Linked DNA regions of Homo sapiens: all the other regions are linked to region 4. The links come from fine-mapping of genetic effects on gene expression. A gene starts in region 4. Each other region holds a variant in brackets. All regions are shown on one strand. Distances are between the middles of the regions. Region 1 has its middle 46 kb from the start of LINC02060. Region 2 overlaps TMEM161B-DT (TMEM161B divergent transcript). Region 3 holds the start of LOC124900200 (small nucleolar RNA SNORA70). Region 4 holds the start of TMEM161B-DT (TMEM161B divergent transcript).

Region 1 (7,802 bases), 220 kb after region 4:
CAAATAGGTGAGCCATCAGATTTGAGGTATGTTGACATCTAGTCATCTCCAAATTTAATTCTATGATGATTGACAGAATTAGCTAATGAAACAAACATTAATAATCACTTGAGTTCAAATTTTAATTTTGGATTTAGAAAAGCTTAGCATATTTTGAAATATTCCAAAATGGAACTTTAAATAGAATCTTGTCAGACTCAGTGAGTAATTTTAGTGACCAATGAGGGGGAAAATGGTTATTTACACAATACTTAGGTTCTTTGAAATAATTACACATTTTAAAATAATTCTGCAGAATAAGAAAAACTTACCTCTTTAGCAAACAAAAAAGGAAATTTTACATTTTATTTTTTAAAAGTTTCTGTCCTGTACATTAATTAAAATATTCTAATTTAAAATACAAAATAGCAATAGGGACAAACTGTTGGCCATAAATGGCTTTTAAATGTTAATTGACAAATATGTTAATAATCCCCTGGAGCATATAACAGTTTTCTTTAAGAGAACTTTACATAAGAAAGATAACTTGAAGCTTTCAAAGAGGACCAGTGTTTGATATAAGTATTAGCTGTGAAACTGATATTATTAATGATTCAATTTTGACCCAGCCAAATTACATTATTTGTATTATGAACCAATCTAAGAATTTACAAAGTTTTATCTATCCTAATTTTTCTAACATTTATAACTATGTATAGTCAGTATGAACCTGGATAAAGCTTTGAAATAGCAGAAATGTATCACCACAAGCAACTTTTATATGTTCCCATAAAGTTTATGTTTTATCTTTGAAAAGCTTCTGCTGTTTAATAAGATTTAGCTTCTTACTTTTAATCTCATATTACAGTTGCAAAAACAAAAAGAAGAAGAAAGATCTAGTACTGCTCTGCATGTTGCAGTGTTGTACATCACTTCCTCCAATAAGTAAACAAGATTCTCAAAGAGCACTTGAGAGGACATACTAACCGTGTAGTATTGTTGGCCACACAGAACTTTAAATAAGCAAATGGATTGTGGTTTTAAAACACCACATTTTATTAGAAGAAAAGAAAGACTAATAGACACTTTTTGTATGTGTTCGTTCAACAATTTTAAAGGAATTTAAAATTGTGTAACTTATTTTCAACTTTCATGTTGCCTATCAATTGTTATATTATTAATAGATGTCATTAAGATGACCAGTTTCTGCTTTCTATGGCTATAGTAGGACTTCACAAGTACTAATTACTTAAAAAGAGAACAATAAGATGTTCTTTATGTTATATGAGAGACTCGGTAGGTATTTGGAAGATTACTTTTAACATTACAGCTTTTAATGGTATTTTATATTCATTGTACTTTTTTGCTTTGTTTTGTTTTATTTTTTGTTTCTTTTTTATTGCCTTCAAATGAAATTTTACTATGCATTGCAGTCTAAAAAGCTAAATTTTCCTTACAATGATGAACACAGGTTTTCTTAATCATAACAAATTAGTGTCCTATAATGAGGAGGGAATAGTGATTAAAACCTTTAAACTTGTATTTCAAAAGAGAAGAAAAAATACATGGATTATTCAGAATGGGCTATTTAGTTCTATGTATCAAACTTAGCAAGAATGAAAGTCTGTCCCATGATTAATTTTACCAACTCAGGTAATGGAGAACATTCTAACAATGGAGATAGCTTAAACTTTAAACACTTTTAACAGACAAAATAATGTGCAATCATGTCTCTGTGCATCTTGTAAAAAAAAACATGCACAGTATTTTCATTTGGAAAGTTTTTCCTCTGTGCAGTTATAGCAAGGTCCCAACACAAGTCAGTTTACATGTTTTGATTTCCACTGAGTTGTTTGTTTGAATGAATGTATCAGCAATTGGCAAAATTATCAAAACATTTATCTAGTGAGTTGCATAAACTTTGTTTAAAATAATGCGTAAAGTTTCACAGATTAGGGAAAAAAAAGTGTATTTTATTATAGCCAAGATTGAACTGACATATTAAACTAAAATAGTTTAAATTTTGTGCAACTTTAGAAATTATCTTATTCTAAATCTCACGGCAAAGAATAATCTGGGGGAGCAGGAAAGGGAATGAGGTTAGTACATTGATAAGGGTAAAAACCTAGCTGACACACAGATTACAAATGACAAGATTTTGCAACAATCTTGCATCTGGATCTATACAAAAAATTGCATGAGAAAATAAAGACTTGTTTCTAGTGTTTCCAAACAGATCTTTCTAAATTTAAGCTATAAAAGGCTGTTTCACCTCAGGCCTGCATGAGAACCACTGCTGTCCCTTGTGGGGACTACCTTATTTCCATTTTCCAGACACATGTTTTCCCCTTTCTCAACTATTTTAAGAATTATAAGTAAGCAGGACTCTAAAATTCAAGTTCAGTGTGCAGAGAGTTAATTTAAATATGATAACAAATGGCTCTGCTTTTGAAATGAATGTAGCCTGGCAACTTCAACTGGGAACCCTTCGGAGGGCCTCAATTATGTATGCGGTTTCTTTGAGAAATAGTTTCACACATCTGACCCAAGGACCAGTATGTTGTTGCCATGAAATAAAACTGTACGTAGGCATTGTTTCATTGCTGCACCCTCCACACACTGCCGGCCTCCACTCCCTTCCCCCACCCTGCACATGCATGTACACACACATACACACACTCACACAAACTCTTTTATTGTCATTCCGCTTCTATTTTTCTAGTAGAGTGAATGTATCAACGTAATTATCATGAACATAATGGCCCGTGATTACTTTTATTTGCTATAAAAATATTCTGATTCTAACTGCCAAACTGTTCCGGTCAAAATCAGGAGTGGGAAACCTACAAGATAAGTAAAGGGTTAAACCACCCACACCATTTCAATTTTTTTCAAAATGGCTGCTTTGTCTGTGTGCATACACCAATAGCAAATGTCCTTCTGTTATTGTACAGCCAATTTGATGTGTCAAGTATTCATATGCTAATAACGGTACAGTTTCTCACTTTTTCACAGATAAATGGTAAAGATTGTTACAGACAGTGAAACACAAGAATAAACAGCTTTTATTTCAGACGCGATAAATTACTTTCCATTCAAATAACATGCGACACACGCTGCTGACCATTTTGTTTCTATTCACTGTTAGTTTGCCTTCTGGGTGTGTTTTTTTAGAATAGTTTGAAAATATTTAACAGATATGGACAGAGTTGTTACTAATGACTTGATTGCATTAATTTGCTTTGTAGTCATTTCATCACTCGAAGTTCATTTTTATGCTCAGTTATTACAGTGGGAGAAAGTTTGATGGAAAATCTGACACTGTTTCCCTAACATGGTACAATCAAGTCTTTTTAAAGCTTGGTAATGACAGTATTTGAAGAATGGATATCTTCCCTTCCAGGTTAGCAGAAATGTCATTCAGTAAATAAAATCCCTTGCTAAGAGTATCACCTAAAAAAAGACACTTGAATGAAATGTACGTTGTTCTGTCAGAACAAAGTGAAATCACTTTGGTTTTCTAAGACATAAATATGTCCTTTTAGAAACCCTGAGTAGGTTAAATATATATGATTAAAGCATACACTTATTGCTAGGGTAGACAAATTAATGCAAAGATGAGGGTGGGGGAGGGGACTGAAGTATGAGAGAGAATTAACCAGTCCTTAAAGAAATATTTTTAAAATAATGTACCCATGAACATGCATGCACTGATGACAGTTATAAATCAAAAGAAACATTTCTGATTTATTTCTCCTCAATTTAACAAGATGCACTTATCTGTTCTTGAGTTGCAATACTTTTAGGGACAAAAATTAGAATACCTAGAAATTAAGCTAATGATTCTTCTAGCTACTTCTTACATTCACCTTATTGTGCCTAAATCTTTTGTCTGAGCTTTACATATGACCATTTTTTGGTTTATGTTTGG[TC/T]CCCTCTGATTGTTACATATACTTGAATTGCTTGCTTGGATGGGGAGCATACAAAATAATTAAGTAAACATGAAGAAAAGTAGCTTGATTCGTTGCTAGGCTGAAGGATCACATAGAAAAGTTTTTTTCCAATTGCCCAAAATTAAGTACAAATACACACATGCACTTCCATATACTCAGATGCAGACAAAATCAAACTAGAGAATTTTTAGAAGCACTACCCTGGATCATGCCTTAAGACATTAAGGATTCCAAAGGTAACTATGACATTAGGTCAATGAGGCTGCAGCTCCCTAATAGTGTAATCAGCAGATTGTAAATTTTTACATAATTCTAGGACAAAAGCTAGCTATTTTGAAGCAGTCTTATAATCTGAGGCCTTTTCTCTGAGCTCCAAAATACCAGAGAAGATTATTGTATCATATCAATGAGGAATAGTAAATGCAAGTGACCAGTTTTATATTAAACATGGACAATCAAGAGATTTTTCTACTATAAGGCTACACAAATAAGCTCATAAAACTTATTACCCTTTCTTCCTCTCTAACGCCATTGTTAAAAATACAAATTAATAGGATCAACTTCAAATATCTATTTTAAATTCTGCCTTTTATATATGTTATTTTTTTTTCTACAGGAAGAGTAGTTAATGGCAGATGAAATACTAATTTTTACTTTATGGGACACCCATCAAAAAGTGACTGTAAGCTAATTTATCAAAATTGAAATAAAGTAGGACACCAGTAGCTATTTCAAGAATTAATTTAAAATGTGCTATATGCCACACATGCTGCATTACTCAGAATGTGTTATTAATTTAAATGTTTCTTAACTAATTATAAAGACTAAATGGAGAACTTTTGCCCGTTGTTTCTTTTCTTCCCCCATCTAGTCTCTTTATCTGTGTAAATACAATTAGGCCTCACTCAGAGCTCTGGGTCTTTGTCTTTCCCCTTTTAATTCCTGTCCTTAGTGTAATTAGCACCTTGGGCACAATCGTAGGAATACACACAGGGAGTTTATTTTCACTGACTATTTTGATATTGCTTCTATCACTTTACCCTCGAACACCATTTTCATTTGCTCTGGGAACTTTCTAAGTACAGAGGTTTAAATCACTAACTCAAATTTTATACTGTGGACAGACAGTTATACATGGATATACAGGACCTGTTCAGAACATGTCAGCTGCACATGATATTTGATCTTTCGTCATACACTCATGCCCATGAACTCCAGGCACACTTATCTGGGTTAAAGCAGTGGCATTCTACCTTCACTCACAAATGTTTAATTATAACTGAGGTTTCAATTAAAAATAAATACAATAGAGTGCCAGAATGCCGAGGGGCTGCGAATGGGCTGGAGGAAACAAGGATTAGAAACAAGGCTTTTGTCTTCTTGCCTCAAAAGGTACAGGTTTTAGGTGTATATTATGAAACATCCTGAAATGTACATTGACTGACTAATTTTCAGGTAAGAATTGTAGTTTTCTTTTTCAAGAAGTATGAGAATTATTAGTGTTTTGAGTTTTTGAGTTACTTATACACAACTTTTCTAATTCATTTATACTCTGTGCCAAAAGTTTTCGGCCTGTTATTTAAAGGGAAAAGTATTCCATAGACAGTGTGAGCAAGATTTGAAGGGATGGTTAAGTGCCACACAGTCACTGAGTTTCTCAATTCCACCAGTAAAATTATGTTCAAGAACTGAGGATGCACTCTCTGCTTTGAATTGCCTACATCTGTCTGCGGCTACCAGCTGAATGGGATAGTGTGACACGCTCACTTCTTTTTCTTATAATCAAATCAACCATGAGGTGTTTCATGATATTTTGGTGTAAATGACCACAAAAATAAATTTTACATACTCATGTTGTCTTGGGTTTTCGCAGAGGTCACAGTGTTTCTGAGTATGGTGTCAATATATAGTTTAGGCTATTATTAAACATACAAAGGAAAATGGAGACTCAAGGCAATGATCAAAATAAATCATATGGAAAAACCTTACCTTAGACCTAAAGTATCGCATATTTTAAGCAAGGAACTTATTTCACCTTTATCTAGAAATCGATTTAATTTTGAATTCTATTTCTCCACAGGCTCTATATTACTAAAATATGATGAAATTGTGAATGTTTAATTATAAATTATGTCTCAAACAAATGAAATGCAGTGTGAATTTTAGTCTCTGAATATTAAGATAAGAAAACATTACCATTAAGACTGAGTCTACATGTTACATGAAACAAAGAATTGAAGCATTATTTGAATCTTGAAAGCACCAAATATACAGGGGCCCCAAGTTATCTGGATAAAGCTCCTACATATTCACTTCATTTGTGTAGATGCAGCCTGACTGCCTGCATCTAAATGGAATCAATTTAGATTCCAAGTGGTTTGAGGTTTATTAAACACAGTGAACTTAGCAAACATGCATTCCCCTCAAGCTTTCAGGTTGGTATTTTCTGCAACCATGTTTGAAGAAGCAAAATCCAGACCTCTCGTAGGCATAGAGGCAAGAGATCGGGTTCCTGTGCTGCTCTTCGCCATATATAAAAACTGATGGTTTTGGTGATGTGGGCCATAACATGAAAGTCATGTTTTTTCTACTATTTAGTCAAAGGAATGATGGGTACTGTGAGTCAACAACAAGCACGGCTACAAAAGAGAGCAGGATTAATGAAAAGAGGATACAGGACTTGTCTGATTGCTCCCACAATGATGCACCACCCTGGATAGCTCATTAGGGTACTCAGAAGAGCACAAAGAGTCTTTTAAATAAAGCTTCCTTGTTCCAAGAGTGTATTCATCACCTCATGCCTATCCAGGATAGGAGGGCTTTCTCCTTGGAGTCTGAATGAAGCAACCTGTAATCAGTTGTATGGAGATGTTGCTAAACATATTTGTAACCTCAAAGAAGTCTTCATTCACCGGAACAGGGACAACCTCAGAAGAAATGGATTTTTTCCCAAGGGTACCATTTCTATTTAGCATGTTAGTACCTTTGTAACCTATTGGATGGAGGACACTGTGGGAAAAGCCTGGAGAGACTTCCCCCTTTACAAATAAAAAAGAAATCTAAAGGAATAGGAGCCTTGTGACAACAAAAAAGAAAAGAACAAAAGTGACTCATGTATGTCAAATGGAGCAGGCACCTAACTAAGCAATAATTAGAACTTTGCCCACAATTCTCTCAGACGAGGCAGTCACAGGCTGGATTTTGGCATAGGGTGTTAATGTGTGAAAGTAGAAGTTGTCTCAAATAGAAGAAAAGCCTAGGAACATAAGGCAGAGCATCGTGACTGCATTATAGTAAAGGCAACAGGGCCTCTTTAGTTAGATGAACTATACTCAGTTGTGTCTTGGCTGTGCTGCTTTCTTCTTTTAAGTTTGAAGTTAAAATGCTACAGGATTAGTCTTACCTGCCACAGAGAACAATGTGGCTAAAATGACGCAAGCCAGGAGAGCTTTCCTGAATGAATGATGCTGTGCTCAATTTACAATAGCTAGAAAATAACAGTAATTATTATAGATTGAGGGGAAAACAGTCTGTAGAATTGTGTTGCAAAGTTGTAAACTTTATGCGGCTAGCAAAAATTCCTGCAAAGGTTTTCAAGTTAAAGTGAAAATAAAAGACTTAAATCATTAGAGTGGTCTTGCGCTCTGGATCTCACATGTTTTCACATGTGAGAAATCTCAAATGATAAAGTATGTACTTTTGCAAAAGCATCCTGTAGATTTAATTGTAAACTAAGTTTAGCAATGTTTTGGGGGGCTGGCTGCCCCAAAGTACAGTGACAGACTAATCAATCCTTCTTTCTTCATTGTTGAAACTCAGCTAATGAATAGTGAGCCAGAGCAAACAGCGAGTGAGAACGCTTGATGAGGA
Region 2 (7,802 bases), 52 kb after region 4:
AGTAAAGTTATGAGATTCATTTTGTTTTTAATTTTTTCTGAGGAATATTTTTTTCTGAAGAGATAAGCAGATTGATGAGCTCATCTTGATCTTTGTCAGTATATTTAAATCATTGGTTAGGATAATTTTTAACATGTTAAACTTTAGGGCTCAGAGACTCTTTAACTTCCTCATGTTACAGATTTTAAAATGAGACTCAGAGAAGTGATTCAGTTTACCCAAATCCCCCTACAAAACACAGCTCTAAATAAATACTAATTCTGTGCCTCTGCAAAATATTGTGCAGGCTCACTTGCGAGGCATGCAGGAAACTCAACAACTGTCAGAAAGAAAGCTCGGAAATGGCAGAAGGATCTCAGAAATAATCTTAGCTGTAAGGACTGGCCTCAAAGACGGTGGCACCATTTGAATCATAGGGCTTAGCAAACTCAAGGTGATGTCTTGCCTCAAGAGACTTCAATCAGTTGATAGGTGAATTGCAGCAATGGAAATCTCCAGTGTGGTCATTTTTCATTAGGACAGGGGGAAGAATCTTGGTTCTGGGAAATCTACCACGTGATGAGGAATTAGAGATTCAAGAGACAAGATTTGGGCCCTGAATGAGGGGTTGGCAAGGGTTACACAGTTCAGTCATGATCGAATCAGGAGCTTATCTTAACCCAGAGATTCCTTTCTAGTGATAATCGCTCTTTCAACCAATAAAAATATGTTTAAATCTATCTATGACCTGGAAGCCCTCCCATCCCACCCCTTGCTACCTCCAGTTGTCCTGCTCTTCCATATTGAACCAATGTAAATCTTACATGTATTAATTAATGTATTATGTATCCCTAAATATATATAAAAGCAAGCTGTGGCCAGGCGTAGTGGGTCACACCCTGTAATCCCAGCACTTTAGGAGGCTGAGGCAGGTGGATCACCTGAGGTCAGGAATTTGAGACCAGCCTGGCCAACACAGTGAAACCCCGTCTCTACTAAAAACACAAAAATTAGCTGGGCGTGGTTGTGCACACCTATAAACCCAGCTACTCAGGAGGCTGAGGCAGGAGAATCACTTGAACCTGGGAAGCGAAGGCTGCAGTGAGCTGAGATCGCGCCACTGCACTCCAGCCTGGGAGACAGAGCAAGATTCCACCTCAAAGAAAAAAAAGAAAAGCATGCTGTAACCTTACCACCTTGGGCACATGTCACCAGGATCTCCTGAGGCTACATTCTTAACCATGGCAAAATAAACTTTCTAAATTGACTGAGACCTGTCTCAGATATTTTGGGTTCAGGAGTAGTATAGAACACTAGAAGTTATTCCTCCTATCTAACTGTAATTTTGTATCCTTTAATAAATCTCTCCCTATCTCCTCCTTCCCATCTTTCCCAGCCTCTAACAGCCCCCGTTCTATTAGGTTGGTGCAAAACCTGTTTTATTAGGTTTGCACCAACCCAAAATCAACTATTTTACACTTCCACAAATGAATGAGAGCATGCGATGTTTATTTAATTTTCTGTTACTGGCTTATTTCATGTAACATAATGTCCTTTCGTTCATCCATATTGCCGCAAATAACAGTATTTCATTCTTTTTTTATGGTAGAATAGTATTCTATTGTGTTTATATAACATATTTTCTTTATGCATTCACCTGTTGTTGGACACCTAGGTTGATTTTATGTTTTGGTTATTGCAAATAGTGTTGCAATAAACATGAGGGTGCAGATGTCTCTTTGATATACCAATTCCCTTTCCTTTGGGTAGGTGCCCAGTAGTGGGAATGCTAGATCAAATGGCAGTTCTATTTGGAGTGTTTTTAGGAATCTACATACCGTTCCCATAGTAGCTGTACTAGTTTACATTCCCATAAGCAGTGTATAAGAGTTTCCTTTTCTCCACATCTTCATCAGCATTTGCTATTTTTCACCTTTTTGATAATCACCATCCTTACTGGGATGAGATAATACCTCATTGTCGTTTTGATTTGCATTTCCCTAGTGATTAATGATGTTGAGGTTTTTTTCATACATTTATTGGAGATTTGTATGTCTTCTTTTGAAAAATGTTTGTTCATAGCTTGTAGGCCTTTTGCCTGAGATCAAGTGAGAAACGTCTGTTCAGATCACCTACCCATTTTACAATGAGATTGCTTCCTACGGTTGAGATATTTGAGTTCATTGTATATCCTGGATATTAATCCCCTGTCAGATGAATAGTTTGCAAATATTTTCTCTCATTCTGTAGGTTATCTTTTCAATCTGTTGATTGCTTCCTTGGCTGTGCAGAAGCTCTTTGGTTTGATATAACCCCATTTGTTTATTTTTGCTTTCATGGCCTATGTTTTTGAGGTCTTATTCACAAAATCTTTTCCCACACCAACGTCCTAAAGTGTTTCCTTTTTTTTTTTCTAGTAGTTTATAGTTTTGGATCTTACATTTAGGTCTTGGGTCCATTTTGAATTGATTTTTTTAATAGAGTGAGAGGTGGGGGTTTAGTTTCATTCTTCTGCATATGGACATCCAGTTTCCCCAGCACCATTTATTATAGAGACTATCCTTTCCCTAATGTATGTTCTTGGTGTCTTTGTCAAAAATCAATTGGCTGTAAATGTGAGGATTAATATCTGGGTTCTCTATTCTGTTACATTGGTCTATGTGTCTGTTTTTATGCCAGTACCATGCTGTTTTGCTACTACAGCTTTGTAGTATATTTTTATTCTTTTTGCTCAGGATTGCTTTGGCTCTTCAGGGTCTTTTGTGGTTCCATACAAATTTTAAGGCTTATTTGTTCAGCCAGGCCTAGCGGCTCACACCTGTAATCAATCCCAGCACTTTAGGAGGCCAGCGTGGGAGGATCAGTTGAGCCCTGGAATTCAATACCAGCTTGAGCAACATAGTGAGACCCTGTCTCTACAAAAAGAAGAAGAAGGAGGAGGAGGAGGAATAGAAGGAGAAGAAGGAAGAAAGAAAAAAAAGAAAAAGAATTTCTTCTAATCCTATGAAGAACATCATTGGCATTTTGATATTAAATCCATAGATCACTTGGGGTAGTAATAAGCAGCATGTTAAGTGTGTACCTTTTTGTTTGTTTGTTTGTTTGTTTTTCTGAGACGGGGTCTCACTTTGTCACCCAGGCTGGAGTGCAGCAGCATGATCTGAGCTCACTGCAGTCTTGACCTCCTGGGTTCAAACGTCCTCCAACCTCAGCCTCCTGAGTAGCTGGGACTATAGGCACACATCACCACACCTGGCTAATGTTTTTCTTTTTTTTTC[T/C]TTTTTTTTTTTTTTCCTGTGATGGAGTCTGTCTCACTTTGTTGCCTAAGCTGGAGTGCAATGGCATGACCTCAGCTCACTGCAAACTCCACCTCCTGGGCTCAAGCCATCCTCCCTCCTCAGCCTCCCAAGTAGCTAGAACTACAGGCATGCACCACCATGCCTGGCCAATTTTTGTATTTTTAGTAGAGATGGGGTTTCACCATGTTGCCCAGGCTGGTCTCAACTGGGCTCAAGTGATCCTCGGCCTCCCAAAGTGCTGGGATTATAGACACAAGCCACTGCACCTGGCATGATTTTTTTTTTTAAACAAGAGAAAATTATCTTTAAAATTAACAGTTAAGGTGAAGTTTAAAAGAGTATTTGTCATCCTAATAATGCTTCTTGGTGTTTTTCTTCAATAGGAGCCTTTCTTGTCCTCTCATTTTTCACATTAGATGAGATCTAAACACACATCAAAACTGGGATGCAGTAATAGGTGAGGAAAAACCAATGTCTTTCACTGTACCCAGGCATTAAATTTGATCCCTAGCATGCCTGGAAAGGGACAGTTTTCCTACTGACTTCCTGATATGTACCTAAACTGCATGGGATCTCATCCTTTTTTGTAAAGAGCAATAAAATATTTCATTTAATACAAGAACACCTTTCATCCAGCCTCATTCAATTTTCTAGGTTAATTTTTGCTTTCCATTCTTCCAGGATGCTTAAAATAAGAAGAGTAAATTCCAAAACCAGCTCTGTTCATACTAGAGCAAGGCTGAGCAAAGCATTGCTGACTACGTGCACAGTGTCAGGAGCCAAGCAAACTCTTCAGCCCTCATTTTCTGGGGACCAAAAGCAGCTTCTGTGTTCTTGCCCTAGGGCTCACCCTTAGTGCCTTCTAGGTAAGACTGCCTTGGCTTCCCTCTGCTAATCAGGGAAAAGGTGATTGGATAGAGTCATGTTTCACCTGAAGTATTTTGGCCCCTTATCTGAACCAGTCATTACATCTTAAGGCAGTTGTAACTAGGCTGCTATAATGATCTGACAAAAGACCTATTCCTCCAACATTACCAGTCATTAACTTTCCAAGACAAGATGTGACATGCCACAGCCCTCAGATAGTTCATCCAGAAGGAGTCTCTTCTTGACAAATATAATCCCTCTTCACCTTTGTTCATGACAATTTTATTTCTTCCACGGTGTCAAACTACCAATTTTTCCAAGTCAGCATTCCCTAGTTAGACCAAGGGACTTTTTCCACTTCAAAGGGAGGTGCTGCTATCTTTTCACTTTTGATTGTTCCTTACTTTAATCGTCTTTCCTAAAATAGTAGTTTTAAGTGGATATATATTTAAAGTAGCAAAGCCTGATGCCTTATTTTTGCTGCAAATTTTGCAGTTCTATGTATAAAAACTTGCTTTAATCATATGTCACTACGTCATGTTCAGTATGCACAAATAAAAACTTATTCTCCAGATATGATGTCAGAATGAATAAAAACTAACAATTGGGATATTTGCCTAAAAGTAAAAAAGAAGCAGGACACTTGGTGTATACTCTTTAGTTCTTAACTTTATTTGAGTAACTTTGCCTACCCTGAAAATTATAAAATAATGTCTTTTGTAAAAATAGGACCATTGCTTCAAAGTATCTCTCTTTTCCCCTTCAGTGGCTAAATCCATACAAAGCTATAAAGTTGATAATCAAAATTGAAAACAAGTAGTTCTCTCTAAAGTTAGAACTGCAGTTCCCTTGGAGGGTCTCATTAGATAGAATCCAGGTGCAACTCTCTGCAACATAGTGTTAGATTCTGAACAGAAGTAAAATAGAGCATGATTCCTTGACTTAAAATGTAACTAAGCAAAGAACACAAGAGTACAGAGGAAACTAAGCTGGTAGAGTCAGGGGAAAGATAAGTGACAGAGAGCCTGATGGCCTTGCAGTAGTCTGAGATGGCAACTTGAAGAATGGTCAAGGAAAGGCATTCAAAGTCTAGTTCCAGAACTGACTGAATGGAATCAAGAAAAGTGGACTGGGCAATTGCCAGATGCTGTCTGAAGGCATAAGGGTATGGACTCTTGTATTGGACCTGGATTCTCTCCAGATAACCTTCTCTAGATTATATAATCTCTGGATTTTAGAATGGCAAAGTTCAACGAGTTTATCCAGGGTTAGTTTAAGATGAAAAATAAAAGAAAAGAGAAAAAACTAAGAAACGTAGAAAGGGTAGTAACCTCAACATCTTGTTTAATAAAGAAGGAACTCTTATCTCTCTTGAAGTCATTCACATTGGGTCTACCGTAGGATTTCTCTGCATAGTAATGAGAGCTGAATGAACGAACTCTGAAGAATTAAAAGAGATCAAGTGCTAAGATCTCAGTGATGGGCGGTACCTAAAGAGGTGAGGCTAAGAGGAGAAAGAAAATCCCCTGGGGGAGATAGAGAGTAAGGGTCAATGAATATAGGGGAGTAAACTCATAAATAGCATTTAAAATTTATTATTAGCCTGTAGGTAACTTTTAATTCTTCAGTTACAGAGAAAACCCCCATTTTGAGGTTACAAGGATTTTCTTTTCTTAAAAGTGTTATTAGATGTGTCCTACTCCCCCTGTATATATAATTTTTAAAAATAATAGTCTGGATTATGAGCTGAAAAGTCTAGTTATTACCATGTAACTGTTTTATGCAATGTGATATAATTATTTACTAATTGTTCCATATTCTCTCATTTTTGTTTTTTCTCTCTTAATTTGATCTTCAGTACCTCCAAGGTTGTACCATATGCAATGCTTACAGGCCTCAACTCTGAAGGCTATTAGAGCTGAGTATAATTCTTAGCCTCTCTTATCTGTGTGGCCTTGATCTAATTACTAATCTAAGTTTCAGTTTCCTTGTGTATAAAATGGGAATAATAAGAATATCTTTCTCATAGGGTTGTGCCAAGGAATAAATAATGTAAAATGAATAAAATAATGTAACATAAGTAAAATATTTCCAGTTTGTGATAAACAGCACAGCATTTAAGTTTGCTGATAAAGGCTTGTCTACCTTATTTTCTCCTATCGTATGTGCACCTTTTGTTTTTGTTTGTTTTTTTGAGACAGGGTCTCGCTCTGTCACCCAGGCTGGAGTGCAGTGGCACATTCTTGGCTCACTGCAACCTCCGCCACCCTGGCTCAAGCCATCCTTCCACCTCAGCTTCACAAGTAGCTGGGACCACAGGTGCCCACCACCACACCCAGCTAATTTTTTGTATTTTTGGTAGAGATGGAGTTTCACCGTGTTGCCCAGGCTGGTCTTGAACTCCTGAGCTCAAACGATCAACCCACCTCAGCCTCCCAAAGCTCTGGGATTATAGGCATTACCACTGCACCCAGCCTATATGTGCCTTTAACTCCATTGTAGAATGCATATTGTGTAGAGTGTATTCTATTTTTTATTATCACATCATGTGAAAAGTTCAGGACTAATTTTAACAAAATTTGACGTTATGTTTATTATGGTCTGACTGAAACTAAAGATTCCAAAATGCAAATAATCCCTCAGGGCAGCTGAAACTAAAGCACAACATGTATGACTACTCTTAGAAGAGGCGTGCCATAAGCAACAAGACACAATGGAAGGGAATAAACAAGCAGTGGTTTCTGAGGGTCAGGGACTCCAAGTGGCAGTTAATTTGAATTGACTGCTTCCCACTTGGGTAACTCTAGGTATATACTCCAGAGGAATTAGTAGCAGGAAATTCATTCTTTTTTAATATAAATTTCTTTTGATAACAATGTATTCGTTATGAGGACATGAGCATGGGAAAGAAAAGCTAAGATGTTAAACAGATGAAAATATTTACATAACTTCAAATAGTTGCAAATACAAAGCCAAGGAGAAGTAGATTGAATTACATTTTCTAAAGAAACTGTCGGACCCAGCCACTGAGCTTTCTCATCATTCTCCATGGTCCCCAAACCTCTGCACCCTCCTGTTCCATCCTCTCCCCCAACCTGGATAAGCAATGTAAAAGCAATTTCAGTGTTTAAGTTGAACTGTGGTTAGTGTAGCTGAGTCACAGAATAAACTGGAAAGAGCCATTCAAGGAAAAAGAAAAACACGTACTATAATTGAAGACAAACATCACTCAGTCTATAACGCATTTTCAGGAATTCATGTATGTGTTTTTATATATAAGATATATAAATATAATATGCATAAATATAGTCACTGGGCAATCAGCAGAAAGTATTTAAGGTAACTTATATGCATTGCCAAAATCTGCGATATATCATATTTTATTTAGTGCATCCAAATACCCCAATTATTACTAAATGGAAGCAAGCTGATAAGCTGCAAGCTATCTCTAGAAAATTGGGCATGAGACTATGTTAGAAATCTTCCAGGAATAGAAGTAAACAGAAAACAACTAAGATTAGTTGCTTGCATATTTTTAGTTAATATTAAATTAAAAATGTACCGGCTGGGCACGGTGGCTCACGCCTGTAATCCCAGCACTTTGGGAGGCCGAGGCGGGCGGATCACGAGGTCAGGAGATCGAGACCATCTTGGCTA
Region 3 (7,802 bases), 120 kb after region 4:
TTTCAAACTCCTGGCCTCGAGTGATCCGCCAACCTCAACCTCCGAAAATACTGGGATTACAGGTGTGAGCCACCGCGCCCAGCCTACTTTTATTTTTAAAGACAGGGGTCTTTCTATGTTGTCCAGGTTTGTCTCAAACTCCTGAACTCAAGTGATCCTTTCACCTCAACTGGGACTACAAGTGTGTGCCACTGTGGCCAGCTAAAGACTCTGGCCATTTAAGGTAACTATTCTCAGGTTCTGAGAGAATAGTGCACAGACATCTTCAGGAGTCAGGATTCTGCCTACCACTGTAACCTTTTCTGTCTTCACTGTTTTATCCCCATTCTCAAATGATGCCTGCCACACACTCAATAAATACTGATGGGATGAAGGAACCTAGATAATAGCAAAGTTGCATCAGCTTCTCTGTGCTCTCTGTGCCTTACACTCAGTCGGACTTCTCTGGGGCCAAGTCTGGTAGTAGAGGGGGATGTTTAAAAGGCAAAATTCTATTAACAGCTTGTTGGGAGAAAAGATGACTGTTGGGAGAGAAGCTGAGGCAGGGCTTGCATGTCTGCTAGACTTGCTGGTTCCTTGCTTCTAGCACTCCTGTTATCTCAAGCAGCCATATGTTTCTCATTCACTTGATACACTGTTTCCTTTCAACCCCCACGTCCTGACCACCTGTTTGTTTGAGCACCAGTAAATAGCGTGGGCTCCCAGAGCTTGGGGCCTTTGCAGCCTTCACACTTGTGATGGCCCCCTGGTCCCACTTTCTCTCTCAAACTGTGTTTTTCTCAATCCTTTGATTCTGCTGGACTTCTTCACCCCCACGACCTGGTGTTGGGTCTGATCACCCCAACAACAGCCCATATGGGGGATGGCTGGCAGGGATGCTTCACCCAGAATCATTTTGACCTGGAATGCTGGGTCTCATATTTTCTACTTGTCCTGGCCATCCAAGCCCATATCATTGGCAGGCAGATGTAGATCATAGAAAAATCCTTGGAAACTTGGGGGTCCCAGTAATGAATGGGAATCTGAGACAGACCAATCACACTCTTACAAACCAATTCAAGGTACTCTGAATTCAACTAAACCATGGCACTGTGACTGCTCAGACAACTGAACATGTGTATTCAGTATATTCCCCAACAAAACCCTGTAAAACATCCTCGTGCATGTGCCGAAGTGTGTGGGTGGACTGAGACCACACAATTATCATGGCATCTCTTCCCAGAAAGTCAATTTGAATACTAGCAAGTATTTTAAAGGGCATTGCTTAAATGTAAGACAAACATGAGGTCAGGTGCAGTGGCTCATGTCTGTAATCCTAGCACCTGGGGAGGCTGAGGTTTATGGATCACTCAAGGCCAGGAGTTCAAGACCAGCCTGGACAACATGGAGAAACCTTGTCTGTACAATAAATACAAAAAAAAATTAACCTGGCATGGTGGTGAGTGCCTGTAGTCCCAGCTACTTGGGAGGCTGAGGTGGGAGGATGCTTGAGCTGGGAGGTTGAGGCTGCAGTGATTCCTAATGGCACCACTGCACTCCAGCCTGGGCGACAGAGCGAGACCCTGTCTGAAAACAAAAATGAAAACAATAAAAAACATGAACCTGTTATGGGGTAGTATATAATAATTGCTTAAATTTTTAAGGAAAACAACCACAAGATTTTAAAGGCATTTCAAACTTCCTGCCTTGACTTACCCTCAACAGTTCTCTTGTTCCCTACCATCACTGGTATAATTCTGTTGTTGGAGTTTTGCCACTCAAAACTTTCTCCTGTACTACCAGTTAGGGATGCTTTGGTAGAAAATGTTTTTTAAAAAAACTGTTCTAAACCTACCTAAAATATCAGCTATCTGGCTCATGATATGGTCTGATATAGAACAGACAGAAAGACTGTCCTATGTCAGACCATATCATGAGCCAGTACATATAGGAACATATAACAGTCTTTCTATCTTTCTGGGGCTAGAATGATCACTCATGAAAGATTACTAAGAAGTGATATTTTGCAGACCTTATTCAAGGTTGATAAAATCCAAATTCTTGCCTTTTGGGTCTCTGAACAGCACCATGGTGGCTGGCAAGAATAAGCGTTTTATGAAAGGTGGCTAAAAGGAAGCCAAGAAGAAAGGGGTTGATCCATTTTCTAAGAAAGACTGGTATCACGTGAAAGCACCTGCTATGGTCAGTATAAGGAGTATTGGAAAGACACTAGGATTCAAGGAACAAGAATTGCACCTGATGACCTTAAGGGTCATGTGTTTGAAGTGGGTCTTGCTGATCTGCAGAATAATGAAGTTGCATTTAGAATAAACTAGCTGATTACTGAAGATGTTCAGGGCAAAAACTGCCTGACTAACTTCCATGGCATGGATCTTACCCATGACAAAATGTGTTCCATGGTCAAAAAATGGTAGACCATGACTGAAGCTCATGTCAATGTCAAGACTACCGATGGTTATTTGCTTGGTCAGTTCTGTATTGATTTTATAGAAAATGCAACAATCAGATACAGAAGACCTCTTATGCTCAGCACCAACAGGTCTGTCAAATTCAGAAGGAGATGATGGAAATCATAAACACAGAAGTGCAGACAAACGACTTCAAAAAAGTGTTCAATAAATTGATTCCAGACAACATTGGAAAAGACATAGAAAATGCTTGCCAATCTATTTATCCTCTTCATGATGTATTCATTAGAAAAGTAAAAATGCTGAAGAAACCCAAGTTTGAATTGGGAAAACTAATAGAGTTTCATGATGAAGTTAGTTGTTCTGGAAAAGCTACTGGGGACAAGACAGGTGCTAAC[G/A]TTGAATGAGCTGATGGATATGAGCCACAAGTCCAAGAATCTGTTTAAAGTTTGATTTTAATAGTGGCAAATAAAAAAGCCTATCTGTCTGCAGCCAATTGAGTTGACCGAGCTCTTTTCCTCCTGGGGGCTTGGTGTGCAATGGCTGCAAACAGCAGATTCCTTGGTAGTGTATGCAGCCTGCTTCTTGTATGGGTTGCCTCTAAGGGACCTTGAAGGCAGCCCTTTCCAGTGTATGTTCATGTCTCTGACCTTATGCTGTCCCAGTGTAGGCTGTAGAGAGGTGTGCAAGCTGCCTTTGGAAAGTTTCAGAGTATCATAGCCTGGGTTCATATTGGCCAAGTCATCAGGTCCATCTGCACCAAGCAGAACAAGGAGCATGTGATTGAGGCCCTACACAGTGCCAAGTTCAAGTTCCTGGCTGCCAGAAGATCCACATCTCAAAGAAGTGGTGCTTTATCAAGTTCAATTTGAATGAAGTTGGAGACATGGTGGCTGAGAAGTAGCTCATCCCAGATGACTGTGGAGTCAAATACATCCCCAATTGTGACTCTCTGGACAAATGACAAGCTCTGTACTCATGAAGTCTTCCACTGTGTGGCCATCTCCTAATGCCAACCAATAAATCCTATCCATAAAAAAAAGAGTTCTATTTGTGGGGAAAAAAAATCCAAATTCTTTAATAAGGTTTCTAACTTCACAGATTCCTGAGTCAATGAATTTGACACCAAGATCCTTATGCAATAAGAAAGCAATGTTTCCTTGGTCACTCTTCTCCTACCTTTCTCTAGACACCCAAACCCCTAAGGTAACCATGAGCTTTTCATGGTGGCATCATTCCATGGAATTCTCAGGTCTCTAATCTAGTTCCGGACAGTAAATGAGTACTCGATATTTGTTGGCATTGCATTCTGGGACACCCTCCCCACATTCTTCATGTTCTAAAATGACCTTTCGCTTTTTTATTGTTCTTTCTCTGTTTTCTGCCCTGCAACCTCACCATGAACAATAAAACTGAGCTGTCACTAACTAATATCCTCCCATAACAGAGAGCCAAGAAAATTGATTATTCATTTAAAGTAATTCTTACTAAAATATGAATGGCCAGAAAGTATATTAGCTTATATTTTGAAAGTAGAAAAGATATTCAAATTATTTCATTCAATATGGTAGGAATTACATCTGTTTTGTTCCTTCTCAGATCTCTAATCCAGTGCCTGACAGGAAATGAATACTTGATATTTGTTGGTTGACTCGGAGAATATTTGGAGATGGTAGCTTTGAGTAAGGAAGGTATCTTAGTAGTCAAGTTTTTCTTTCACTGCCTATGTTTTTACTTATTTTGGCAGACATACAAATAAGGCCAATAGTTTTGTAGTGTTGATTGTTTTCACTACTTATAGCTAAAGATTTCCCTCATCTATGTTGTTGCATAATTTTAAATATATGTTAGGGTTTTGCTTTTTGGGGGAATGAATGTTTTGACTTAGAAATTTCTCTTCCTGCAAAAGATGTTTTAAAATTTTTCTTCTAGACCTGTTTGGACATACCCTAATAAAAGAATAAGCTCACAAGTGGAGAATTCTAATGCAATTCTCTATAGCATTTAACACATGGCAAGTGATCAATAAACACTGGCTGAAATAATTTTTTTTTTTTTTTTTTTTTGTGACAGAGTCTCACTCTTTTGCCCAGGCTGGAGTGCAGTGGTGTGATCTTGGCTCACTGCAACCTCCGCCTCCCAGGTTCAGGTGATTCTCCTGCCTCAGTCTCCTGAGTAGATGGGATTACAGGCACCTACCACCATGCTCAGCTAATTTTTGTATTGTAAGTAGAGACGGGGTTTCACCATGTTGGCCAGGCTGGTCTAGAACTCCTGACCTCAGGTAATCCTCACAGCTTGGCCTCCAAAAGTGCTGAGATTACAGGCATGAGACACCGCGTCCAGCTGAAATGAATTTGAAAGGCAATGTGGTAAGATCCAGAGCCTAAAATAAAACTCCAGGTTCTCAATCCAGACTCAGCCAATTGTGTGATCGAGTTCAAGTCATTTAACTACTTTGATGAGTGGTTTTCTCCCATTATTTCCGCATCCTGCTCCAAGCCCACTAACCTGTGAGGCTTAAGATCTTCAATTAAAGTTGTACTAAATTGTTTTTCAAGAAGATAAAAATGTCAACAATGGTACAAATTATACAGGCTATAATTGTTACACTTCCAGAAGGAGATTTAAGATGCAATACATAAAATATCAGCTACGTGGTTGCAATGAGCAATGATAGAATTTAATTTTGTTATATTTTCTGATGAGCTCATCCATGTTCTAGGTAAAAGCTAGACACAGAAAATAACATGGCCTCATGCTTAAGGGGAAATGTGTAATAGTGCCCACTGGGGAAATGGAACAATCAAGACGTGGCTCTAACAGTGACCTTGCTTGCCAGGCCTTTCCTGCCCACGTTCTCCTTCCTTTGGTCATCTTCTTCTTCTGGGAGTATACTTTCACTGGCAAGGAGTATAAAAAGCTATTACAAAAAGAAACCGGTAAAGTAATAAAATACTGACCCAGTGGGCAAGGGAATGAATTCTATCACTACAGAATGGTGTGTGGGAAAATATGTACAGGCAGGAGATGAATAAAAAGAGGCACTGTGCCTGTTACGAACTTGAACAGGAATTTTTAAAAACCCTATCATCTCACTTTTTCCCTGCTTTATTTTTCTGAATATACCTGACAGCTCAGAATTCCTCAGTGACTCTTTTTAAAAATTTCACATATTTTTGGTTCATCTTTTTTCCCTCCCTTTCGCAGTTTTTAAGCTCTCATCCTAACTTAAAAAATAAAAATTAAAAATAAAAAAGAATCACAGGGCTGGAGCTGGCATGTAACTCTTTGTCAGAGGATCCTCAACTTCTCTGCATTTGTGTCTCTTTATCTGTATAGTGGGCATAATAATACCTGTCTCAACTATGAAACAAGAACATGTGGCTAGCAAGTGGGAGGACATGGGCAAAAATTAACCTCTTCAGTGGCGTCATCACTATCTCTCCTCTCAAATCTCTCCTCAACTAGGTATAAGACTAGTTGCATGCCTCCAGGGCCCATGTCTTTTCATACTTTTCTATGGCCACATCCTCTTACTTGCCCACCCTGTAAATATTATTTTGTCTGTGCTGCCATCCCATTTTATTTTTTCTGTTTCTCTCCTGTTTTTAGTTCAAATGAACTAATAGCTTGTCAGTATTTACAGTCTATTTATCAATAACTTTTTAAAGCCACGTATAATTCCATTCCTGTGTGAAATTAAAATGGCTATTCTAATTCTTTCTTAAATTGGAACCATGTGAAATTTTCTTTAAAACCTATTAATCATATTTACATCATATTTTTTAAAATTAAGCTTTCTTATTAATCACATTTACAAATAGGAAAACTTGATTTTAATGTTCTTATATATTCACTATAGTTACTGATTTCCTCTTTGCTCTAACTGCCCTCTTTTGAAATTGCCCCTAAAAAAACACCTTTGGTGTTTATACACATAGAGTAGGATAAGTAGAACCAATTCCCCAAACTCCTAAAAATTTCTGTAGGAAACATATTTCCTTCACACTGTCCACACCAACTCAGTACTATGAAAACATTTTTTTCCTTTCATCTCTACAATGTGAAGAAAAAATAAAAATTAAAAGTTTGGTTCCCACATTACTTCAAGAATATAATTTTTTCTGTTAGATAAGGATCCCAAAATACTTCCTACAACATAGCCCCTACTGTTCCTTGTTTAGTCCAGACTATTGTTTTAAAGAAAGCAAATTAAACAAAGCTATTGGTGACAATGGACTGGAGTTCTCTGATGCAAAATTATAGATCTCAGGAGATATTTCAAATATGTCTTACCTAGTTGCTATTTATCATCAAACATACCCAAATGTTTGTAGTGTGTGAATATTTTAAAACAAACCTAGCATAGTGTCTGAGTACAGAGTTAAGTCAATAGTTTGGAAACATCCGTTTGTTTCTTTATATGCATTTAGCTACTGCTATACCTTTTTCAATGAATGAAGCAGACCTGAGCACACACAATAAAAGAAAGCAAAAATTACCAGGTTTGGACTTCACTTCACAGCTGGAAAGATTCTGTTGAGGCTGCCAGCAGGGGATCTTGCGTATTAATACCCTACCTGGAAGAGCTGACATGTTGGAAATGAGATTAACACCTTCCTGTTTTTACATTAACTAAGGCTAAAGTGTCATTTGCCTTATTGGGAGAAAAAAATTTAATACTGAGATGATGGGGTTGCAAACAAGGTATGGTTTTAAGAAAATGTTAAACTATGAGGTAGGGTTTTTGTGGTGGTGGTGGTGATCCTTTCAAGATAAATACCTGTACAAATAAAAGCCAAAACTATCAGGACAACTCAAAAGCTGAACATAAACACATGTAGCACAACAACTCCTTTTCAGGCCAATGCTAATTGATACGGTAAATAACTTGTCAGACTGCTTAAAAAATAAAAATAAATGAATACACTATGTCAAAGAGTACTGATGCTTAGGTATTTGTTGCCAATTCCAGACTAGCCAAGAAACAGAAGAGCTAATATAAATGATTTATTCATTCAGATATAAGATAGCACTTTTTAATTCTCTCACTTCACAATTCATCTAGTTACATATTTACTAAAGACGAGCATTTAGATGAAAAAATATTAAAAATTCTAATGTGAGGAAGCCTCAAAATCATTGTCATGTATAAGTGGGAATGAGTTGGGAGAAGCAGGCCAGGAGTAGCTTGACATCTCCCTCATCCAGACATGCTCAAAACAGGTACTGGTGGCCTTTTCTCAGGCTCAGAAGGCTGAGCTATCATCCATACGTATGTCATCTTCAGTTGATAGAGTCGCTCTGCTGTGCCAGGTCCTCTTGTAGGAGTGATAGAGAAACCAGAAAGGACAGATATGTTCTTTGTGCTCCAGGCCTCCTGGTCTGGGT
Region 4 (7,802 bases):
AAACTGCGCATGTCAAATTACCACTCAGCTGGCAAAAGGACCTCCAGTATCTCCATCAAAGTCTCTTATACTTGCATTTCTCTCTAGTAGGGGTTTAAGGTCCATCAATTTAACTCTTAACTGCATCCAGTGCTAGAGTAAGGATTTAAAAAAAAAAACAAAACTTAATTGCGGAACTTATTAAAAATGCAATTCTAATATCCAGAATCTACAAGGAACTTAAACAAATTTACAAGAAAAAAACAACACCATCAAAAAGTAGGCGAAGGATATGAACAGACACTTCTCAAAAGAAGACATTTATGTGGCCAACAAACATGAAAAAAAGCTCATCGTCATTGGTCATTAGAGAAATACAAATCAAAACCACAATAAGATACCATCTCATGCCAGTTAGAATGACAATTATTAAAAAAGTCAGCAAACAACAGATGCTGGCGAGGCTGTGGAGAAATAGGAACGCTTTTACACTGCTGGTGGGAGGGTAAATTAGTTCAACCATTGTGGAAGACAGTGTGGTGATTCCTCAAGGATCTAGAACCAGAAATACCATTTGACCCAGCAATCCCATTACTGGGTATATACCCAAAGGACTATAAATCATTCTACTCTAAAGATACATGCACACACACGTATGTTTATTGCAGCACTATTTACAATAGCAAAGACTTGGAACCAACCCAAATACACATCAATGATAGACTGGATCACAAAAATGTGGCACATATACACCATGGAATACTATGCAGCCATAAAAAAGAATGAGTTCATGTCCTTTGCAGGGACATGGATGAAGCTGGAAGTCATCATTCTCAGCAAACTAACACAGGAACAGAAAACCAAACCATGTTCTCACTCATAAGTGGGAGTTAAACAATGAGAACACATGGACACAGAGGGGGTAACATCACACACTGCGGCCTGTCAGGGGGTGGGGGGCAAGGGGAGGGAGAGCATTAGGACAAATACCTAATACATACAGAGTTTAAAACATAGATGATGGGTTGATAAATCCAGCAAAACCACCATGGCACATGTATACCTATGTAACAAACCTGTATGTTCCGTACATGTATCCCAGAACTTAAAGTAAAATTTGAAAAAAAATTTAAAAATACAATTCTAAAACTTTATGCTACCCCAAATTATCAGCGCAGAGAAGTGTTTTTTATCAAGTATCACAGGTGATTCCTATGCAAACTCAAGCTTGAAAACTAGTATATTAACCCACTTTTCAAAACTCAGTTGAAGTCACCTACTACAGCAGTCCCCAACCTTTTTGGCCCCAGGGACTGGTTTCATGGAAGACGATTTTTTCACACATTGTGGAGGCAGTGTGGAGGAAGGATGGTTTCGGGATGAAATTGTTCCACCTCAGATCATCAGGCATTAGATTGTCATTTAAGGGTCACCTAACTCAGGTCCCTCACATGCACAGTTCACAACAGGGTTTGCGCTCCTATGAGAATATAATGCCACCACTGATCTGACAGGAGGTGGACCTCAGGCATTAATACTCACTTGCCCACCACTCACCTCCTGATGTGCAGCCCAGTTCCTAACAGGCCATGGACCAGTACAAGTCCACAGTCCCAGGGGTTGGGAACCTGTGACCTACTACATGACCCAACCTGCTCTCAGTTAGAAATAATTTCTTTCCACTGTACTCTTTGAGCCTATTATATGTGTTTCTCTTATAGCATTTACACACTCTTCCCAACACTCCCCTCCACTCCCCTCAAAAAGAAAACTTTTCATCAAATCCAATTGATTATGGCAAAGGTTTATAACCTCCCCATGGCCTACTCTCCCACACCTGCCCACAAACCATTGTTCAATTACAGCAGTAAGTTACTACAGGATGATACACAGATGCAAGCCGTGATATCTGCAATTCCAGGAGCTAGCTCTAATCTACCTATCTTCCACAAATTAGCTTGAATGGTAGAAAGATTTATATTTGATCAAAGTTGGTCTGTAATTTTCAAAAAGGAAAGTGCAATAGAGCAAATGGCTTTATTCCATTAGTAAATTTCCTATAGACTTGTCTTCACAACAACTTGAAAGCATAAAAATTAAGCGTGAGTTCAGTATTTTCAGTCTGGATCATAATCCTATTCTCCTTCATTCATAATACAAAAACCTTGTTATAGGCACAGGTATCTATTGAGTATCGGTATACATAATGTATGAGAGAATGAGAGCACAGAATTAGTTTATCATTGATTAAAACAAGAATTAAATCAAAACATTCCAAGAGTTGTGTTCCATTCTGGAGCAGTATTTAAGACAGTAGTGAAAGACTTGGCCAAATATACAAAGATTCCAAGTACTATCTATGTGACTTATGAAAAAAATGAAAAAGAGAATGATAAAAGAAATCAAACTTAAGCCAAAATGGCATGGAAACAAAACAGTGGAAATCAGACTAACTTTTATTTAATCTGAAACATGTAACTATCCTCAAAAATGTTGAGTAGTCATGGAATCATAAATTTAAGAAGGTGCTTTAATACCCATCAAGTCCCACTTCTCTTACCCAGGAGGAATTTGGAACTCTTATCAAAATTGAGTGACTTTTCCAAATCCATATAACTAACAATGGGCAGAATCTGGGTCCTCTGGGGTCAATACTAATGTTCTTTTCATAATATCATTAGGCCCCAGCAATGCAAAACAAGTTCTGATTTCAACAAGCTGAATCCTCAATAAATTCAGCCCATGTTCACTTCATTTAATGGTTAAACTCTTCCCTTTGAAAAATTCCAAGCATTAACCACACTTGCATATACAGACATTATCAATTTCATAGCTGGGAAAGATAAAACTCAGCCAAGATAATTAGCTCAGAAATATAAGCACTTCCAGAAGGAAAAGAGCCAACTAGTTAGTTCCAAAATGACATTCAGAAAAACAGCATAAGATTACATTAGTTCCAAACATTAACCATCTCTTTTGAACCGACAGGATAAGCAGGATTCTACTTCTAGTATTCCAAAACACTGAGAACAAGTTCATGTTCAGCTTTTCTGTGACTATGATGAACTTAAGTATTTTAATTATACTTTACCTTCAACTTTTCAGACCAAAAAGTCAAAAATTAATCTTAAATTTAAAAAATGAAAATATGAGTTTTAGTCCAGACTGCCAAACTACTGTTACTTTAGAAAAATCACTGTCAATTTCTAGACCCCAGATTCTTTCTTCTGTAAAAATGGGGATGGAAGAGTGATTACTAGGCTTTGGTTTCTCCCAGTTCTGTTTTCCCTATCCTTGTCTAATTTCACTGATACAAAAGAAAAACAACTTTCTTAATACAAACCATATTATTCACTGAGGCTTAAAAAAAAAAACTTTAAAGAGATAGGTTATCTGGTAAAGTGCACCAGGAACTACATTATTTTGAAGGTCTTTGTTCTACATTCAGCTAAGTTTCTAAAAGTCATTCAAAAGCCAATCACCACACACATTAACTGAATGTTGGCAATATTTGGCCCTGAAAATATAAGACAAACTGAAGCTAAATTCCAGGACAGAAGCCTCTGCAAGTGAGGGTTTGAAATCTTGTATACGGTGAAGAAACTGACAATAATGAACTTCACCAGAGCCCCGTGATCTTGAAAAACAGCAAAGGTTAAGAAACCCCTTGCCCCCGTTTGTGTTCTGAGAAATTGGCTTACTGCAAAGAATCATCTTTCCTGTAGAACTTAGATAAGACTAAGGGTTGATCCATACCCCCCTACCCCTTGTTTACCTATAACAAGGCCATAACTAGACCCTTCTAATTCCCATCCTTTGCTTCGTAAATGACTTGCTGAAGTACCTGTCCCACAGATCAATCGGAACAAAATACTTATTAACCAAACTTTAAGATTCTCTTCTCTCGGGTACCTGAATTTTGTCCTTCCCTCAGTCTGAAACAACATATACAAACCTCTCCTAACAGCTCCTCCTCAGAATACATGGGCTCAGGGTAAAACATTATCTGGTTACTGCCGGATCATACCCATATTTTCATCCCAATTCCTGACATCTTATTTACCCCTACCAACAAAAGACAAACCCTTTCTGCCTAACCTTTAAGGTGCATGCAAATCTTACGGTCATTCTCCCTACTGCAACAGTTCCTTCAACCTTCCTCCACACCCCTGCAATATTCCTTTCGAATAAAGTCTGTCCTTACTAAACTCGGGTTTTTTATTTGACACCCTTTTCAATTATGAAATGGCTAAGTGTAAAGAATAAGGGGACTACCGTTTCTTTAAATGACAGGTGTTGATCTTATACAAGGAGACCCGTTGTGTCCACCTGGAGAGGCTAAAAGCATTTCTAAGATCTGAAGTTCTTGGCCACTGTTCCGCGGATGGAGAAGGGGGCGCAGAAGAGGTGACTGACCCGGCAAGGTCAACTCTGGGATCACCTGGCGCCACAGGCCATACACAGTAAATGGGCCATGAACAGGCAGGCTACCCAGTCCATACTCCCTGACAGATACGCCCCTGCCTCCGGCCCGCTAGTCTCCCAGACAGGTAGGCGTAATGCTGCTTCCTCAGGGGCTCAGACACCCTGAGATAGGTGGTGGGTCCTACCCAGCAGCTCATCCCAACGTCTCAACTCCATTCTGAGCAGAGCACCTGATGGCTCTTTTCACAGTACTGACCTCCCCGCCCTTTTCGCCCCACCGTTGTCACTCCTGCCCTCACAGAAGAACTCACCATGGCGCCTAGGATAGGTCGTGGACCAGACACCCTGGAGTTGCCGGGGCAGTCCCAAACCTCTTACCTCCCGGTCCTTGAGCCGAGAGACTCTCAAACAGCGAAAGAGAGGGTCTTCCGGCTCTGCCGGAAGTTGTGCGCGCGCGGGACAGGAAGTTCCTCCCTTCTCCAGAGCGCCGTCGACCCCACGCCACGCAGAGGTGAAGATACGCAGGACGTCCTCTAAAGCAACTTCCGTGGGTGCCAGGTTGTGGGCTGGGGGCGGTGCTGACCTTGAGAGAGCGGAGGAGGCGCAGGCGCAGCACAGGTACGTGGGCGGGCGGATCGTGGTGGCTGCGCTTGCGAGGACCCTGAGGTAGATTGGGTGGTTTCAACAGGAACGCATCCACTGTCTGAGAGGTGACGGAGGCACACGTTGGTGTGGGGAGCGGGAGGGGAGAGGGAGGGGGGCGGGTGGGGGGCGGGAGGGGGCCAGGGGTGGGAGTGAGGGTGCGCGATGGGAGTCGACTCCAGACCCAGGTGATTTAGAGAGAGTAAAGACCACCTTTGGCCGTCATTTTGTCTCAGCTTAACTGACGCCCTCTTGTTACCCTCTAGTTTTCCTGACTCGGTCCCTTATTAGCATATCCTCATTTCCACAGACCTGTCCGTCTGTTGCTTCTGTTCCCTGCCTTAGTGGGTACCGTAGCTCTACCCTCCTTCCGGGCAATGGAATCTCATAGTGAGAAGTTTCTTCACTATTCACAGGTGGCAATTGAAGCCGGAAGAACATCTACCAAGAGCAGAGAACCCAGGAAGAAAATTCTGCCTCTTTAATACGTTCCAATATGGACGTTTTCCATATAGATACCTATCTATATAGATAGATGCTCTGGGATCTGACGGTCCTGGACACCTGTATGGCTGTGTGCTGTGGTCTTTGCCTAGCCTGCGGTTCACTTTTGCTCTGGCCACCACCTCCCCTCATGTACAAACCGCGTCTCTGCTCTGCCAGTCTTGGCCCCCGTCAGGCAGCGGTTCACTCCCTCACCAGGGAAGTCTAGATAGATAGATATAGATAGATATCGATCGATAGATATAGATATATATATAGATAGATAGATAGGTAGATATATGGATAGATATAGATATTTGGATAGATATGTAGACGTCTATCTATAAATATATCGATATATCGGGGTTCTCAGCCATCCCAAAGAAGCTTGCACAGGGCCAGTTGCTTTATGTCAGGAAAAGGGACACAGACTGAGTGTATGAGGGTTTTTTTTTTCTATAGATGTATAGATATTTATATCAGATGCAAATAAGTGAAACTCTCATACAACTTTTAATTTTGTGTTTTTTCCAAACTCTATTCCATTCAACTTTTTCTGCCTTTTTATTTGATTATAATGAGACATCGTACTGGAGGCAGGCTTGAAATGGATATACAGAGCACTTTCAACCCAGAAATTTGTCTCACGACTTGGGGTCCTTACTTAAGTTGTAGCTGTTAGTAATTTCATCCATGAATTCACTTTGTGCCATAGTGTGATGTTTTGTTATGAAGTTGGAATTGGGAAGGGAAACTAGGAAGTTTTGGGAGAAGTTAAGAAGGTTGAGTAGGCAGGCGTTGTTATAGATATTAAATTTCACCCTGCTTATCAAAGTACCTGGAGCGTATGGTATCCAAGCTGTAAATGGCCCAAAGGAATCGGGGTTCTCAGCCATCCAAAAGAAGCATGCACAGGGCCAGTTATTTTATGTCAGGAAAGGGGACACAGACTGAGTGTATGAGGGTTTTTTTTTTTGTTTTTTTTTTTTAGTTTAAACTTGATTTTGTGAGGGGACGAACAGCGTGACAATTAAAAGAAGATCTGGGAATCGTAAGTACTGACAGAATACCTGGAGGGAAGGTGGGACTGGAGAATAGTTTGTGAAACAGATCCTGCTGAGGATGAATCCAGAACTTCCTGAAGGGTTCCGCTTCTGCTGTGTAGGGACAAGGTTGTAAATAGACAAGCCACAGGCACCTGCAAATGGTAAGTGTGGTAGAGAGGGGCTGGAATTGCCTGTTGGTGTATCTGTGGGAAGCAGCTGCTATCCTTGAGGAAGAAAAGATGGAGAAGGTAAGTGGCTATCAACCTGTCAGAGACAACACATTCTGTGAAGTTGTACTCTTTCATTTCTGACACTGTGGTTCTTAATATCTGTCCTAAACCTGGCAGTCATTGAGGTTCGCAAAGTATCTCCTTCTATGTGACAGTAAAACTGGAATTACTATCAGAATGGAATCCATTCCTGCTAGAGTAAAACCATGAAAAGAAATCGCAGTTTTGATTATCTGCTTATCATTTTTAATAGATCACAGAGTGCAGTGTTCCTTATTTGTTGTATGGCAAGTTGATGAATAACTCTTGATTAATATCTTTTAATGTTCTGTTTCACACAGTTCTCTCAATTACATGTGAAAAATCTGTTATATAAGTAATGCTATTTAATGATTAAAATGGATATATGTTTTAAGGTAGTGCCACCCAGTCTTTTTTTTTTGGTAGAATAATATTATTATCTATTGGTTGCCTGCCTTGAAGTACAGTAATTTCTCTGTTTCCATTATTTAAAATAGGTGAGTGTCTTTGACAAAGATACAAAGAAAGGGGACAGTTATGAAAGGGAAGAAAAGATAGATGGAGATGAAAAGAAATTCAGTAGTTTCAGCAAGGGAATTAGGAGCATAATCTTTGAGAAAAGTCTTGGTTGCTTACCATTCGGGCTTTGTGATGAGTTGAAATGTCCTGAATGAGAACTGTTCTCAAATGCTTTCAAGACCAACAAAAAGTACGATACCCACACTGACCTGGAACTCTTTAAACCATTAAGATATATCACTTTTTCGCAGTTCAGTCCATATTTTTTGCAAAATGTTCTGCTTAGTTTTTCTGCTAAGAAATTACTGTTTCTGAACAAGGTTAAGTGTCGTATGCTTTCATTGTAGTTTTTTTTCCCCTAACATATACTGTTTTCCTAATTAGACTATAAATTCCTCCACAGCTGGGACCTTGTTTTGTTTTCTCGCCTTCCCCATAACAAATATCATTTAAGTGA

The links. PIP is the estimated chance that this variant, and not a neighbour inherited with it, causes the effect. A credible set is the group of variants that fine-mapping cannot tell apart.
Region 1: its variant is the best candidate, but not a certain one, in a credible set for the expression of TMEM161B-DT in nasal epithelium (TOPMed, PIP 0.65).
Region 2: its variant is the best candidate, but not a certain one, in a credible set for the expression of TMEM161B-DT in whole blood (INTERVAL, PIP 0.52).
Region 3: its variant is the best candidate, but not a certain one, in a credible set for the expression of TMEM161B-DT in whole blood (INTERVAL, PIP 0.79).

The regions. Positions count from the first base shown.
Region 1 is chr5:88,481,616-88,489,417 of GRCh38, forward strand. No RefSeq gene overlaps it. Among named protein-coding and RNA genes, the nearest start is that of LINC02060, 46 kb to the left of the region's middle. The variant TC/T (reference allele first, on the strand shown) is at 3,911.
Region 2 is chr5:88,315,691-88,323,492 of GRCh38, forward strand. All of the region lies in intron 2 of TMEM161B-DT (TMEM161B divergent transcript), which reads left to right. Among named protein-coding and RNA genes, the nearest start is that of TMEM161B-DT, 51 kb to the left of the region's middle. The variant T/C (reference allele first, on the strand shown) is at 3,258.
Region 3 is chr5:88,379,878-88,387,679 of GRCh38, forward strand. The region is part of intron 2 of TMEM161B-DT (TMEM161B divergent transcript); the gene reads left to right. It overlaps LOC124900200 (small nucleolar RNA SNORA70), which reads left to right and starts at 2,895; the gene lies at 2,895-3,030. It also overlaps the pseudogene RPS3AP22. The variant G/A (reference allele first, on the strand shown) is at 2,807.
Region 4 is chr5:88,264,006-88,271,807 of GRCh38, forward strand. It overlaps TMEM161B-DT (TMEM161B divergent transcript), which reads left to right and starts at 4,877. Exons shown (of 3, transcript NR_039995.1): 1 at 4,877-5,022; 2 at 6,521-6,580. It overlaps TMEM161B (transmembrane protein 161B), which reads right to left and starts at 4,840. Exons shown (of 12, transcript NM_153354.5): 1 at 4,716-4,840. The coding sequence starts at 4,718. RefSeq lists enhancers at 4,627-5,126, 4,817-5,006.